4 linked regions of the Homo sapiens genome follow. The protein of the gene in region 2 interacts with the protein of the main gene of each other region in a pairwise test. Each region holds a gene or a part of one and is shown on either strand. Other genes may lie near its edges.

What was found.
Region 1: the proteins of DDX6 (region 2) and ZBTB10 interact in binary tests that used the Homo sapiens proteins (3 or more experiments, as listed by UniProt).
Region 3: the proteins of DDX6 (region 2) and GPRASP3 interact in binary tests that used the Homo sapiens proteins (3 or more experiments, as listed by UniProt).
Region 4: the proteins of DDX6 (region 2) and CNKSR3 interact in binary tests that used the Homo sapiens proteins (3 or more experiments, as listed by UniProt).

What each region holds. Positions count from the first base shown.
Region 1 is NC_000008.11:80,492,726-80,496,225, forward strand, and holds part of ZBTB10 (zinc finger and BTB domain-containing protein 10), read left to right. Parts: intron 1-3,500. UniProt on the Homo sapiens protein: May be involved in transcriptional regulation.
Region 2 is NC_000011.10:118,747,263-118,750,213, forward strand, and holds the end of DDX6 (probable ATP-dependent RNA helicase DDX6), read right to left. Parts: 3' UTR 501-2,951; downstream 1-500.
Region 3 is NC_000023.11:102,719,509-102,723,542, reverse strand, and holds the start of GPRASP3 (G protein-coupled receptor associated sorting protein 3), read right to left. Parts: upstream 2,801-4,034; 5' UTR 2,718-2,800; intron 2,587-2,717; 5' UTR 2,452-2,586; intron 2,180-2,451; exon of another isoform or gene 1-2,179. UniProt on the Homo sapiens protein: Survival and differentiation promoting protein that plays a role in the regulation of neurosynaptogenesis. Induces phosphatase PP2A activity which results in APP dephosphorylation and inhibits BACE1-mediated processing of APP.
Region 4 is NC_000006.12:154,413,186-154,416,685, forward strand, and holds part of CNKSR3 (connector enhancer of kinase suppressor of ras 3), read right to left. Parts: intron 1,239-3,500; coding exon 1,114-1,238; intron 1-1,113. UniProt on the Homo sapiens protein: Involved in transepithelial sodium transport. Regulates aldosterone-induced and epithelial sodium channel (ENaC)-mediated sodium transport through regulation of ENaC cell surface expression.

The DNA of each region.
Region 1 (3,500 bases), on a different chromosome or scaffold from region 2:
CTCGGCCTCCGAGAGTGCTGGGATTACAGGCGTGAGTCACGCACCCGGCCTGAAGATTCTTAAGGGAGTGATCAGTTCTACCTGCAAAGGTTGGAAGAAGCTTGTACAACTGATTCTTGAATTTTAATTGCATTTAATTAATAGGTGTTGACCAGGATGGGGAGGGCATTTAGGCAGTGCAATTAGAAACAGCCTAAGGAGGAGCCAGGCGCAGTGAGTGGTTCATGCCTGTAATCCCAGCACTTTGGGAGGCCGAGGTGGGTGGATCACTTGAGGTCAGGACTTCGAGACCAGCCTGGCCAACATGGTGAAACCCCGTCTCTACTGAAAATACAAAAATAAGCCAGGCGTGGTGGCAGGTGCCTGTAATCCCAGCTACTTGGGAGGCTGAGGCAGGAGAATCACTTGAACCTAGCAGGCACCCCACTGCACTCCAACTGGGGCGACAAGCAAGACTGTGCCTCAAAACGCGCGCGCGCGCGCACACACACACACACACACACACACACACACACACACAGCCTGAGGAAAGTGAAGAATGGTATCTTAGAGAAGGGAGAGTTTGGTTGCTGTGCAGGATGAAAAATCAAGTTTGAATAGATAGACTGGAGGTCATGGAGGATCTCTTGTCATGCTGAAAACATTAAATTTTATTGTCTTAACAAATGGGCAACAATAGCAGTTTTAAGCAGGGGAGAATCATTATCAAATGTGTATGTGTTTCAATCTAGAGGCACCTGCGTAGTGTGTATGTGGGTTTAGAGTTTGAGGAGAGAACTGGTTGGCAGGATGTTATAATAACCTGAATAGGCCGGGCGCGGTGGCTCAGGCCTGTAATCCCAGCACTTCGGGAGGCCGAGGGGGATGGATCATCTGAGGTCGGGAGTTCGAGACCAACCTGACCAACATGGAGAAACCCCGTCTCTAATTTAAAAACAAAACAAAAAAAAAAAACCGAGCCGGGCGTGGTGGCGCATGCCTGTAATCCCAGCTACTCGGGAGGCTGAGGCAGGAGAATCGCTTCAACGCAGAAGGCAGAGGTTGTGGTGAGCCGAGATCGCGCCCTTGTGCTTGGACAACAAGAGCGAAACTTCGTCTCAAAAATAAAAAATAAAAAATAACCTGAATAACCATCGTCTGTCTGCTCCCTAACACTCACAGGATTAGAATTTCTGGGGATAGTACTTAAGCTACCAAAGAGGATGCCATCACTCAGAGATATAGAGGTGATCAGAAAACTGCAAAAGAGACCTTCTTGTCTTTTTCTCTACCAACTGTTATGATTTGTCATTGCCACTAGCATGTATTTGGCAAAACTTGCTATGGCCTTGTTTGTCTTCCTTCTATAAAATGAATTTGTTCTAAAATTTGGAAATAGAAATTACTGTTTTTGTTCTTTCAGTATATTCCAGTGGGTTGCTGCAGAGTAATATTTTTATGTTTTCAATGCTTTTAGTTTACACTTAAATGTTTGTGTTGGAAATGTCTTTTCTGCTAATTCAGTTATTGGAAAAGGGCTGTAATTGAGTAGGGTAGTAAATACTAATTGCTTGTTTCTTTAACTGAATAACATTTTCCTATTGTTAACGGATTGACTACAGGTGTGCTGTTTGACTTTCTATTACTTGTAACTGAAGTTAGCCTCTCTTCCTCTACCCCCGCAAAAGTGTAGGAGACTGGGTGATGGTCTTGTATTCTCTACAAGTTGGTGGCGTTGTTTAGGCCCCAAGCTGGAATGCTGATGACCCTATGATTCTCTCCCTCCACCCTTTACATCTGTTTTATCATGCAAGTTCTGATGATTTTTAGACTATTTTTCTAGGCTCTGCTTCACACCTCATTGACACCTATCTTCCCTAATTAAGGTCTTTTTTTTCTGGCATGTATGTTGCCCTATTAACAGTAGCTTTCCAGAGGGTACATGGCTCACACCTGTAAACTTAGCACTCTGGGAGGCCAAAGCAGGAGGATTGCTTGAGCCCAGGAGTTTGAGACAAGCCTGGGCAACACAGGGAGACTCTTATCTCTACAAAAATTTAAAAAAATAAAATAACTGGGCGTGGTGGCACACATCTTATAGTCCCAGCTACTTGGGAGACTGAGACAGGAGGATCCCTTGAACCCAGGAGGTTGAGGGTACAATAAGCCATGATCTAACCACTGCACTCCAGCCTGGGTGACAGAGTGACACTGTCTCAAAAAAAAAAAAAAAAAAAGGAAAAATAGCTTTCCAACTGATCACAGTATCTGCAGTCTTCATTCCCTGATAATAAATCTCCACCTTGCTGCCATAGGCATCTCTCCTCTTTGCTATTTCGATTATATCACTGCTTCTGAAAACTCTGTAAGGTGCCTATAGCAATGGTTCTAATATTTGGGAGGGAGAAGGGGATTCAAATCTCTCTCTCTCTTTTTTTTTTTTTTTAAGGAGATAGGGTTTCTCTATGTTGACTGGGCTGGTCTTGAACTCCTGGCTACCAGCCATCCTGTCGCCTTCCAAAGTGCTGAGATTACATGGCGCTCTTGTCAAAATGGATGGACATTTACCTCTGAAATGTGCCCAAGTGCATATTTGCATTCCGTAGGGCTTTTTAGAAAATCACATTGAAGTTCTTTTACAAATCTTAACTTTTGAGGATGCTATAGACCATCTTATGTTTTTTTAAAATGCTGGGTTTTTGTTTTGTTGTTTTTTTTTTTTTTAAATGCCGTCGCATTTACTTGAAGTGCTCATCCACCCATCCCACTCTTGGATCCTTTAAAGCTCTGCTCAGGTCTTGTTTCTTCGAAAAAGCATCCCCACACTTTAAAAACAAAAAACTGGATTAGATACACATGCTTTCTGCTCTTATAACACCTTAAGAGTCTTACCCACTAACAGTAACTTCAAATTAGCAACTGAATCATTTTGCTTCCTAGTGTAGACCCTGGCCAAAGTAGGTATTCATTTAATGTTTATTAAATAAATATGTAAAGTTAGGACTTTTCAAGCATTTTCCTTTGAGTAAAATATTTACTATTTTGTAGCCTATGTTCTGGAAATATTGAACATCTAGATAATAGGTTATAAGGATTTTAACTAACTGGACACTTACCTATATTTTCTAAATTTTGGAAGACTTGATATTGAGGTCTCATCCAGACTAAAGTTTTACTAAATGGCATCTTTACAAATAAAAAAATTCAAGATTTCATATTTAGCTCTGAATGTCTGTTTCTTTAAAATCTCCTTGTTTAGCCAGTTTAGACTAATGTCTGAGCTAATTGTGTTTTCCTTTTTGGGAGAGAGGTTAGAAAAGGTCACTACATTTGAAAAGACCAGTTGTGGAAATAGTAATTTTTTTTAACTTATCAGTGATATCTGATGTTATCAGTATACTAAAAGTGGACATAGAACGTTAAAGAAGGAACCAAAGAGGCAAAGATACCTGGAGTTATTAGGGACCTATTTTGAGATTTTGTCTCTGGCACTAAGAATTTATTAATTTATTGAGTTTAGC
Region 2 (2,951 bases):
AGATACAGGGGACTGACTCTATTTTCTTAGTTATACTTAAGCATTTCTTTGGGTAGAGAGGTAGTGAGAGTGATGTGCTCAACTTTAAGTGTCTGCTTTTCCCAACTTTTATTTCCCAATCTTTTATTTCATCAGTGGTTTGTAGTTCTCAGCATATGAATTCCATTCATACTGTTAAGATGTAGTATGCCTTGGTTTTGGGGGTATGTTCAGCTTTACATTTGAGAACAATTGTAGGAGGTGGTAATTACTGATGTATTTGGACATATTATGGACCACATCTCCCCTCTTCCCAACCGATTATCTTGGTTCTCCATTTAGGCTGTGAAATCTGACAGCATGGTGGAACAGTATCTACAACAGATGAAGGGGCTCTGAATTCAACTGGGCTTCACAGGAATGATGGGTTGAGAAATGTCTGTTTCACAGTATGAATTACCTGAGCAAAATGCTCAGATTCCTATGCACACAGCTGCTACTAAGGACATACCACACACACATTTGGAGTTCCAGTGGGCTTTTATTGAGATAAATTAACAAAAACCAAGATTTTACCATATTTTTGGAACCTTATAAACTCAGCAGACTCCGGTCCATATATGCGTACATACAACATAACACATCCCAACAAAAACAGAGCCCCCCCCCCCCCCACTGGAACATCTGCCAATTAAGAGAAAGCCAATTTTCCCTTCCCCCAATGTTTCTGAAATTTTGAGTTCCCACTGTTCACTTCTCAGTGGAACTGGTCCCTTGTGGCTAGGGACATTGGAATTCTCTACCATTTTTACTGAACAAAAAATAATTTTTTTTCCTGTTTCAAAAAAGGGAATAGTGACTTTGTTTTCTCCAGGCTCCCCTTCCCACACAACCAATGTAAAATACAGCAGCCTGTATCTTAATAACCCAGCCCTACCCCCTCCCTTACCCAGCATTGTCTACTGGAGAATTTAAATACACTTCTGTTGGAATCTGTCAGCTGTGGATGGGCAGAGTCCAGGTGCCAGGCTAGCTCCCTCTGACCTCATGAACTGTGACAACCTTTGGACACTTAACTCTTTACCCCAAAGATGAGTTTTTAGATCAGAAAGGAGAGCAGATTTTCTTTGGGAGTTTTAAAAAACTATCTTTAGATTTAGAGATACAAAGTACAACTACAATCTCACAGAAGTCCACTAAAGTTCACCAAAAAGCTGACTTACTTCAGCTCTCATGAGGCCAATAATTTTGATAAAGGTATCTGGCAGGAAAATGATTCCACAATAACAAATTTAAAGATACCTAGAACATTGAAAAAAATAGCAAATTAAAATAAATGGCTTAATTTCCAAGAACTTATTTCATTTTTTTGTTACTCATCTAGAAGGTCAGGAGTGTGGCTAAAGGCAGTTTCTGATGAGGTTATGAGCTTCCAAAGTGTTTCTAAATCCTTAGTGCAGACACCCTCCCTTCTGGGGCAAAGTACCCTCCCTCCCACCCCTATTAAAAAAAAAAATTAAAAAATTAAACCACGTCATCAGAATGAGATGTTTTGATTCCAACAATTTATACTCAAGGCTTTGTGCTGAGTTGTCGTTTGAACCAAGCATGATGTTATCAAGCACAAAGCACGTGGCAAAGGAAAGATGCTCCCATCTCATTCTGAAAACAAATACTGATAACCAAGCCCACCCTCCAACCCTTTGGGGCCAACCCATTTTATGCTGCTGGGACCAACTTCAAACAATTTAGAGGTATATTTAGGTTTCCCTCTCTCTTACTTCTGTGAAAGATCATTTTAGAATAAATGTATTCCATTCCTATGGGAGAGGCAAAACAGTATTTATCCCCATCAGAATATATGGGGAAAGAAAAAACATAGGCCTAGAGGTGGTAAGGTGTGTAACAGTCCATAGCCCATTACACAACTGTACAACCAAAGGCTAAATGATGAGTTGGATGTAGTTTTAATATTAAAAATAGAGGGTAGTTCTCATCCAAATGAGCCACTGGAAAATATTATCATTACTTAAAAAAATACATATTTAATATTGGAAAGAATGTGAAAACAACTTCCAATAGTAACAATGCTTATTATGAGGGCCCAAAAAAGAAAGAAAAAAAAAAAAAAAAAAAAAAAGACCAGGCTTTGACCTAGTCCTCAGAGCATCTTTCCATTTAACAATTCCTATTCAAGAGTCAAGCACCAAAACTGGACAGCTGCCTCTACAAGACCGTGTCCAGTAGTGGTGTCCCAGATAGTTTAAGTGCCACTCCTCATTAGAGGCTATACTTCAGTAATACTTTCCATTTTAAGTCTGTGCTTTAAGAGGGACCCACAGGCATGTGGCACCACGCAGTCTAAAGTTGGTGAAGGAGACTGCACTTTTTGTTTAGTCACCCACACGTTCTCTAGCGAGATACAGAATTGCATTTATACTCTTTTCTTCTACATGAATGATCCCTCTTATCTCGCAAGAGGTGGGGGAGAAAGAGAGCTGCATCGGTACAAGGGCACAATTTTTTTGGTCAAAAGTTGACACCTTTTAAATTCCCTCTCCCACCCCTCCCTGGAAAAAAGTTACTTCCTTAATTAGGTTTTCTATTTAGTAACCAACATTGACTGGACAGAAAATATGAGGCTTGGGTTCCAAATAGATGAGCTTGTTCTTTTTTGGGTTTGTACCGTGCAGTTCTTGCTACAGTTGTTAAGGAGTTAGGGCTATGTCCCATCAGGAGGCATCTGTAGGATTTTGATCTCCAAGGAATTGTGGGTGAGTCGCAAATAGTTTGCTCAGAAGTAGGCAGAGTCAAAAAAGCAACTTCAAGTAATTGATTCCTTTGTCCAAAAGAGTTAAAACATTAAAGTATATGCGGGACTTATTTTGTAATATTTTAGGGTTTTGAAAAATAAAATATGGAAATCAATTTTTTTTAATTTTGTTTTTTGCTTTTTTCCCCCCCTTTCCAGA
Region 3 (4,034 bases), on a different chromosome or scaffold from region 2:
ACACAGAGACAAGAGACAAGACAGCTTGAGTAGAAAACCATAAGCTGAATGCTGGCCCCAGTACTTATATTATCAGAATTCTGGAGAGTAAAGAGAAGAAAATAATAGGAGAGGGTAGGAGACGAGGATGCAGTCCTAGGGACTAATCTCTACCTATGATTTTGCCCCACATACCTTGTATCTATCCTAGCTTTTAAGTCTAAATAGGAGGGCTTAAAGTAGTAGAACAACATAGTTTCAACTCTATAAACTTGGTATAAACATAAGGATAGGAGTGGGATTAGAAAAAGTCATTTCTTCCTAGCAACACTTTCTTACACTGACTTTGTATGTATTGTGATATATGAAGAAATCAGCATTTGATCTTTTTTATTTTGATTGAAATTTGAAATGAGTTATTTTTAAAATTTTTTAAAATTTTTAATTCACATGGATATGCAATATTTGTACATATTTATGGGGTATAAATTATATTTTGATATAAGCATAGAATGTGTAATGTAATTGAGATATACATCACCTTAAATATTTATCATTTTGTTGCACTGAGGACATTCCAAATCTATTCTTCTAATTATACTGAAATATATAATAACTATTGTTAACTATAGGCACCCTATTGTGCTACTGAACACTAGATCATATTCCTTCTAACTGTATTGTTGTACCCATTAACCAACTCCTTTTTATACCCCATCCCCAATACCCTTTCCAGCCTTTGGTAACCATAATTCTTTGTCCCATATTCCTGGCATAGAGCTCCTAGAACCCTTGCTATTTCCTGATAGGGATAACGGAAGCATCTTTTGTTACATGTGGCTTTAGTCTCAAGTTCTTGACACTAAGACCCTTGGAATCTCTGGAGTGATAGGTGTCTTTTTTTATGTTCCGAGATGACTGGTGGGTGCACTAGATAGCTTCAAGATATGGATGGTCACCAGAAAGACCAAGGCATGATTAGAGGGTTGGAACTTTCAGCCTCACCCCTTGACCTCCAAGGAGAAGAGAGGGGCTGAAGATTGAGCTAATCACCAATGGTCAATGATTTCATCAATCACGCCTATGTAATGAAACCTCTATAAAAATCCCAAATGTCTGAGAGGTTCCAGGTTGGTGAACTCATTCATATTCTGGGAAGGTGGTGTACCCCAAATCCACATGGATGGCAGCTTCTGCATTTGGGACCCTTCTGGACCTTGCCATATGTACCTCTTCATCTGGCTTTTGATTTATATCCTTTATAATGAACCAGTAATAGGAAGTAGTGTTTCCCTGAGTTCTGTGGGCCCTTATAGCAAATTATTGAACCTGAGGAGGGGGTTGTGGGAACTTCCAACTAGTAGCTAAGTCAGACAGAAGTGTGGGTGACATGGAGATCCATTACTTGTGACTGTTGTCTGAAGTGAGGGAGGGCAGTCTTATGGGAATGAGCCCTTAACCAGAGAGGTCTGCACTAACTCTGGGTAGTATCAGAATTGAATTAAATTGTAGAATACCTAGCTGATGTCCTCAAAGAATAAGAGAATTGCTTGGTGTGAAAAATCCACACATTCTGTGCCAGAAGTATTGTGGGTAGAGGAACCATTTTCTTTCACTTGGTACCCAGTGGGTGCATGGGGTAGGGGGAAAGGAGGATACTCGATGTGAAAGAGGACAAGGACTTACCATGGGGCTGCTACCTAGGATGGGACCAAAGAAACACATCCTAAGGAATGAGCAGAGATCACAACACAAGAGAGCAAAGGGTATGCAGAGGGAAACTTAGGAGACTATCCATGAAGCAGTTTCTGTAGGTGGTCCCCAGAAAGACCCTCCTCTGAGGCCCAAGACAGCAGGGAGAGAGAGCTCACACGGAGTAGCAACCCACTTTGTGTCCCTCAATGGGAATGAGATCCTGCTGCATGGGGCTGAGATCCAGGAATCCCCTTGGGGGTCGAGAAGCTTGGAGTATCCTAATGAGAAATCCTAGGTGAAGGGCCCACAGCATCTAGGTTTCCTCCCCTCGAGTCTATGTCTCCTCCTCCTTTTCCTAGAACTGCCGGGATTGAGGTTCATTCCTCTCTTGCATCCCCAGCCAGCTGGAGCCTTGGAGCAAAAGGCAGATGTATGTGTTCTCTTCTGCCCTCCTCCACCCTCCGCCAGTTTTGAGCTGGTATCAGCCATCCCCACTGCCTGAATACTGCCAGTAAGAAGACAGAGAGTAGAATGAGTGCGGACGCATAGCTCACGGTTCCCATCCCCACCCCTGCCTTTCCTGATCCAGCACCACAGGTGTTCACGAATTGTCACTTCACCATTTCCCCGCTCTGGGCTCCCCTGAAGCCAACTCCATCCATATGCCCACCTCCCCCACCCACACATACAAACACAGGGCACTGGGCTGGGAGCCTTGGGATGAGGGGTCAAGGGTGTTCAAAAGGCAGGAGGGAGCAGGCGGATCTGAGGCATTACCTGCACCCGCATCTAGTCTCAGTCACCACCTCTCAGGGATGCCATCTGCCGTCCTTGCACCCACCTCCTCCAACAGCAACCGCTGCTCCTCTCCACGAACGCGTCGGGCAGGTAGACTCTCTGCTTCTTGAGCTCCTGGACAAAAGACAGACGGGCTAAGACGCTCCCGGTTGGCTGACGGATTGTTTCCTTTACCAACAAATGCTGTAGTTCCAGTCGCCTGAGAAATTAGTTTTCAGGCTGATGCAGCATGGAAAGACACCTACCTACCTTAACATCCCGCCGTTCCTCCCACGTTCTGCTCTGCGGAGCACAGGTGTCGTCCGCCTCTCAGGTCTTTTCTGGATGCAAGAAAACACTCCTCTCGGCAGGCCTAATGCAGAGCCTGGTCACATGACCCACCGTCAGCCCCACGTGACTGCGCAGTCAGCTTGTTCGCCGCAGTCCTGTACCATGGATGACAGTCTTCTGCCTCTGGGGTGCTTGCTAGAAGATCCTGAAGCTCCTTGGCCAGACAGCTGGAAGGAAGGCTGGCCTTTGCTCTGGAGGACCACTCGGCTGGCGAGGAACATTCGATGAGGATTTGGGAAATGAAGTGATTTTTAATATTTTGTATACGACTCAAGCGACATACTAAAACACACACAGATCTGTCTTGAAAAATGCTGGTAAGCAAAACAAACATTCAAACTCCAATTTGCACCACCAGGATAATCCCTGTTAAAACTTATGGCTTGCGATGGGAGGCAAAACTGCCACTTCCATATTACCTTACCAAACTAGGATCAGGTGGGGAAAAAAAGCATGTTGCACTGTCAGAAAAATTATACCAAACTTAGATAAAGTCACCTTCAGTTACTGGATGTCATTTCAGGGCAGTGCAGGATGTCTATTGATTTACCTATTTTTCAACTCTGTAGACACTGATGTTAACATGTAGATATTTTATTCAATAAATATGTAAATGATTTATGTCCAGTGCAATAGAAAACCTTAAATGTTACAATTTATTGCCCTGTAAGATATTAACCCGTTTTATATTTAACCTGGCAGTGTTATTCTAACATTTATTAATTTCCTATGTGTTTATGAAATTCAATGTTTTGTTTATATCTTCATATTGTGTATATTGTATATACACATATACCCTTCAACTGTTTTCTTAATCCTAGCAGTTGTTGATTGTGTTGAAAAATCTTTCACATATTCTTTTTACATTTACATGAATTGTAATTTTACCTTTGAAAATTTAGAACATTCTCAGACAAATAAATGTTATGTCTAAAAATAATAAAACATTGGATATTTCTCGTACGTCTGAATTTCCTCTCCAAACCAACATATAGCCCTGTCTTCCAATTCTCCTGACTGAAGGTATTGTGTGGTCATTTTTTAAATTATCGTGGCAAAATACACATAACATAAAATTTAACATTTTAACCATTTTAAAGTATACAACCCAGTACATTATCAATGTTGTACAACCATCACCACTATCTAGCTCCAGAACTTTGTTGTCACCTCAAAAGGAAATGTTATGTTTTTTACGGTAATAATTATGTGAAAAAGGTGCCATTTTTGTA
Region 4 (3,500 bases), on a different chromosome or scaffold from region 2:
TGTTCATACCTACACTCACAAGGTCTGAGTTTTTCTGTTTTTTGTTTTTTTGTTTTTGAGACTAGGTCTCACTCTGTTGTCCAGGCTGGAGTGCAGTGGTATGATCATGGTGTATTGTACTGCAGCCTCGACCTCCTGGGCTCCAGTGATCCTACCACCTCAGCCTCCTGAGTAGCTAGGACCACGGGTGCACACAACCACACCCAGCTAATTTTTTAAATTTTTTGTAGAGATGGGGCCTCACTATATTCCCCAGGCTGGTCTTGAACTTCTGGGCTCAAGCAATCCTCTGAACTGGCCTTCCAAAGTGCTGGAAATATTGGCGTGAGACACCATACCTGGCCACATAGGTTTTTTTTCAAGTTCTATGAAGAACACATCTTTCTCAGCAAAATCAAGCTGCAACTCTCATTAATCTCACAGAAATACTTATTATCTACCCCCTCAAGATGAATTTACCATGGAGTTAATGAAACTTAACCTGCAGGGCCCCCAATAGACCCTTCCAAGGCCCCAGGAGAGCACGTTTTCATTCGTTTTTCAAAAGTAAGGTATTGCTATATCCTTTTGTTTCTTTTTTGAGACAGGGTCTCGCTCTGTCACCCAGGCTGGATTGCAATGGCACAAACTCTGCTCACTGCAACCTCCACCTCCTAGGCTCAAGCGATTTTCCTGCCTCAACCTCCTGAGTAGCTGGGACTACAGGCATCTGCCACCAAACTCAGCTAATTTTTGTATTTTTTTATAGAGATGAGGTTTTACCATGTTGCCCAGGCTGGTCTTGAACTCCTGAGCTCAAGTGATCTGCCCGCCTCAGCCACCCAAAGTGCTGGGATTACAGGTGTGAGCGACCACACCTGGCCAATACTGCCATATTCTTTTCTCAGAAGGGCCCTCCCCACCAAACTGTATAGCTTCAAGCCCCACAGAACCCAGATATGTCCCTACACTCCTATAAAATAAGGCTGATCATACTTTTAACGGCAGTTCAAGATTCAGCCCTGTCACACTGTGGCTCAGCAACTTCCTCTCTCAAGATCCTCTTTTCACACCACCATTTACAAATGACACCAACAGGAGACAAGCATACCATGACAATGGACAGCAACATACCGGGGAGAGTAGGGAACAGCAGGCGGAGGAGGAATATAAAGATCCAGGATGGCTGACTTCTCCTTCTTCAGTGAGGTATCCATAGTGCTTTCAGGGGACTGGGTTGTCGCGGGTGGAGGTGAGGTCTGAAACAGGAGTAACACAGCAATGCAAAGAGTGGAGATCAATTCAGAGATGATTCTTGGTGTTTATTTCCCCTCCCCCAAACCAACACCAACCCCGTGTCTGAACAGGGACTGAGGTCATTCATGTGTTTACAGATATTGGCAATATTTAACTTACATTCTTCTTTGAAACCTTAGAATGAGCTGAGGGATTTGAATGACGATGTATAGTGGCAAGAAGCAGAGGCTTAGGAGCCAGGTGCCAGGGTTATGACTCTAGCTCTGAGCAAATCACTTAAACATCTGTGGCCTCCCTTTCCTCTTCTGTAAAGGAGTGATACTGATAATATCTCTTGCATAGAGCTGCAGTGAGAATTAGATGAGTTAGTTCATGAAAATTACTAGCAAGGCTGGGCACGGCGGTTCTTGCCTGTTACCCCAGCACTTTGGGAGGCCAAGGTGGACAATGGATTGCTTGAGCTCAGGACTTCGAGACCAGCCTGGGCAACATGGCGATACCCAGTCCCTACGAAAAAAATATAAAAATTAGCCAGGCGTGGTGGCACACGCCTGTAGTCCCAGCTACTTGGGATGATGAGATGGGAGGATTGCTTGAGCCCAGGAGGCAGAAGTTGCAGTGAGCGAAGAGTGTACCACTGCACTCCAGCCTGGGTAACAGAGTGAGACTCTGTCTCAAAAAAAAAAAAAAAAAAAAAAAAACAAGAAAGAAAAGAAAAGAAAAAGCAATCAGTAGCAGTGCTACTATTGACTAGGAGTATTGCTTGGAACTCTGGATGTGATCCTGGCTAGACTTACTAGCTGCCCATTTTTTTTTTTTTTTTTTTTAAGATGGAGTCTGCCTCTGTCTCCCAGGCTGGAGCACAGTGGCGCCATCTTGGCTCACTGCAACCTGTGCCTCCTGGGTTCAAGTGATTCTCCTACCTCAGCCTCCCAAGTAGCTGGGATTACAGGTGCGTGCCACCACACCCAGCTAATTTTTGTATGTTTAGTAGAGATGGCGTTTTGCCATGTTGGCCAGGCTGGTCTCAAACTCCTGACCACAGGTGATCCGCCCACCTCAGCCTCCCAAAGTGCTGGGATTACAGGTGTGAACCACCACGCACAGCCCTTATTAGCTGTTTATTGTTGAGCAAGTCACACAATGTCTCTGTGCCCCATCTATAAAATGAGAATAAATAGGGACAAGGATAGCACCAACATAGGGTGGCTGTGAGAATTAAGTAAGGTAACACATGTAAACAACTTAGGACACTGCTTTCCCATAGAAAATACACAACCTTATACCGTTTATTTTAGTACTATTTATACATATATGCATTCATATATACGAGTTAATCTTAACTTCAAATCCACATGGCTGAGTTTGAACTATGATACTGGTCTCAAAGGACATGGTTTTTAATATCTCATGTGAGAACTTCAATCTTACCTTCTACAATCTAACAATGACAACAATGATTTTTCTGGTTGGTAAAGAACAGCAAGGAAATCTTGGAGTCAAGGCAGGGAAATATTTGGTGAAGGCCAGTGAGACTGTGCCAAGCCCTGGGCAGACATAAAAAGGTACCCTTAGGCCCAGCGTGTGGGCACACACCTGTAATAATCCCAACACTTTGGGAGTCTGAGGCAGGTAGATCACTTGAGCTCGAGAGTTCAAGATCAGCCTAGAGAAAATAATGAAGCCCCGTCTCTACCAAAAAAAACAAAAACGAAAACAAAAAGCTACCCTTCAACCCTACCCAGCCTGGTTGTAATGGAAGAGATCTCTGAAGTGAAACTGTGACCTGATTCTAAGGATTGAAAGGACTGACTAGCCAGTGTGACGGAGCTAGACATGGCCACCAGGAGATTCACAGAGGACAGCTCATTTTCAGGAGAGATACCAAGTCACAGGGGCAGGGACTGAGCTTTCAGTCTTCCAGAGTAGAACCCCCATATTTTAAACCGTGGCCATTAATGCATAATCTATCAATTCTACTCAATTTGTAATTGATTGACATCTCAACATGTCAATTTCGGACCATATCTGAAAACATGAGGCCAGGATCCAGATTCTCCAAATCTTAGAAGCAAAAGTAAACTAGAACATTTCCACAAAATTGATGCTCCCTGAAAACACACATATTGATAATTACTTCTATATCAGTAACTCTCATTTCCCAGGAGTGTGGCATCAAAACAGAGTGGTGAATGCCTTTTCTATGATAGGACAACAGTAATGATGTTGAACAACTTAGAGCTCTCTTCTGAGAAGGGTGGGTG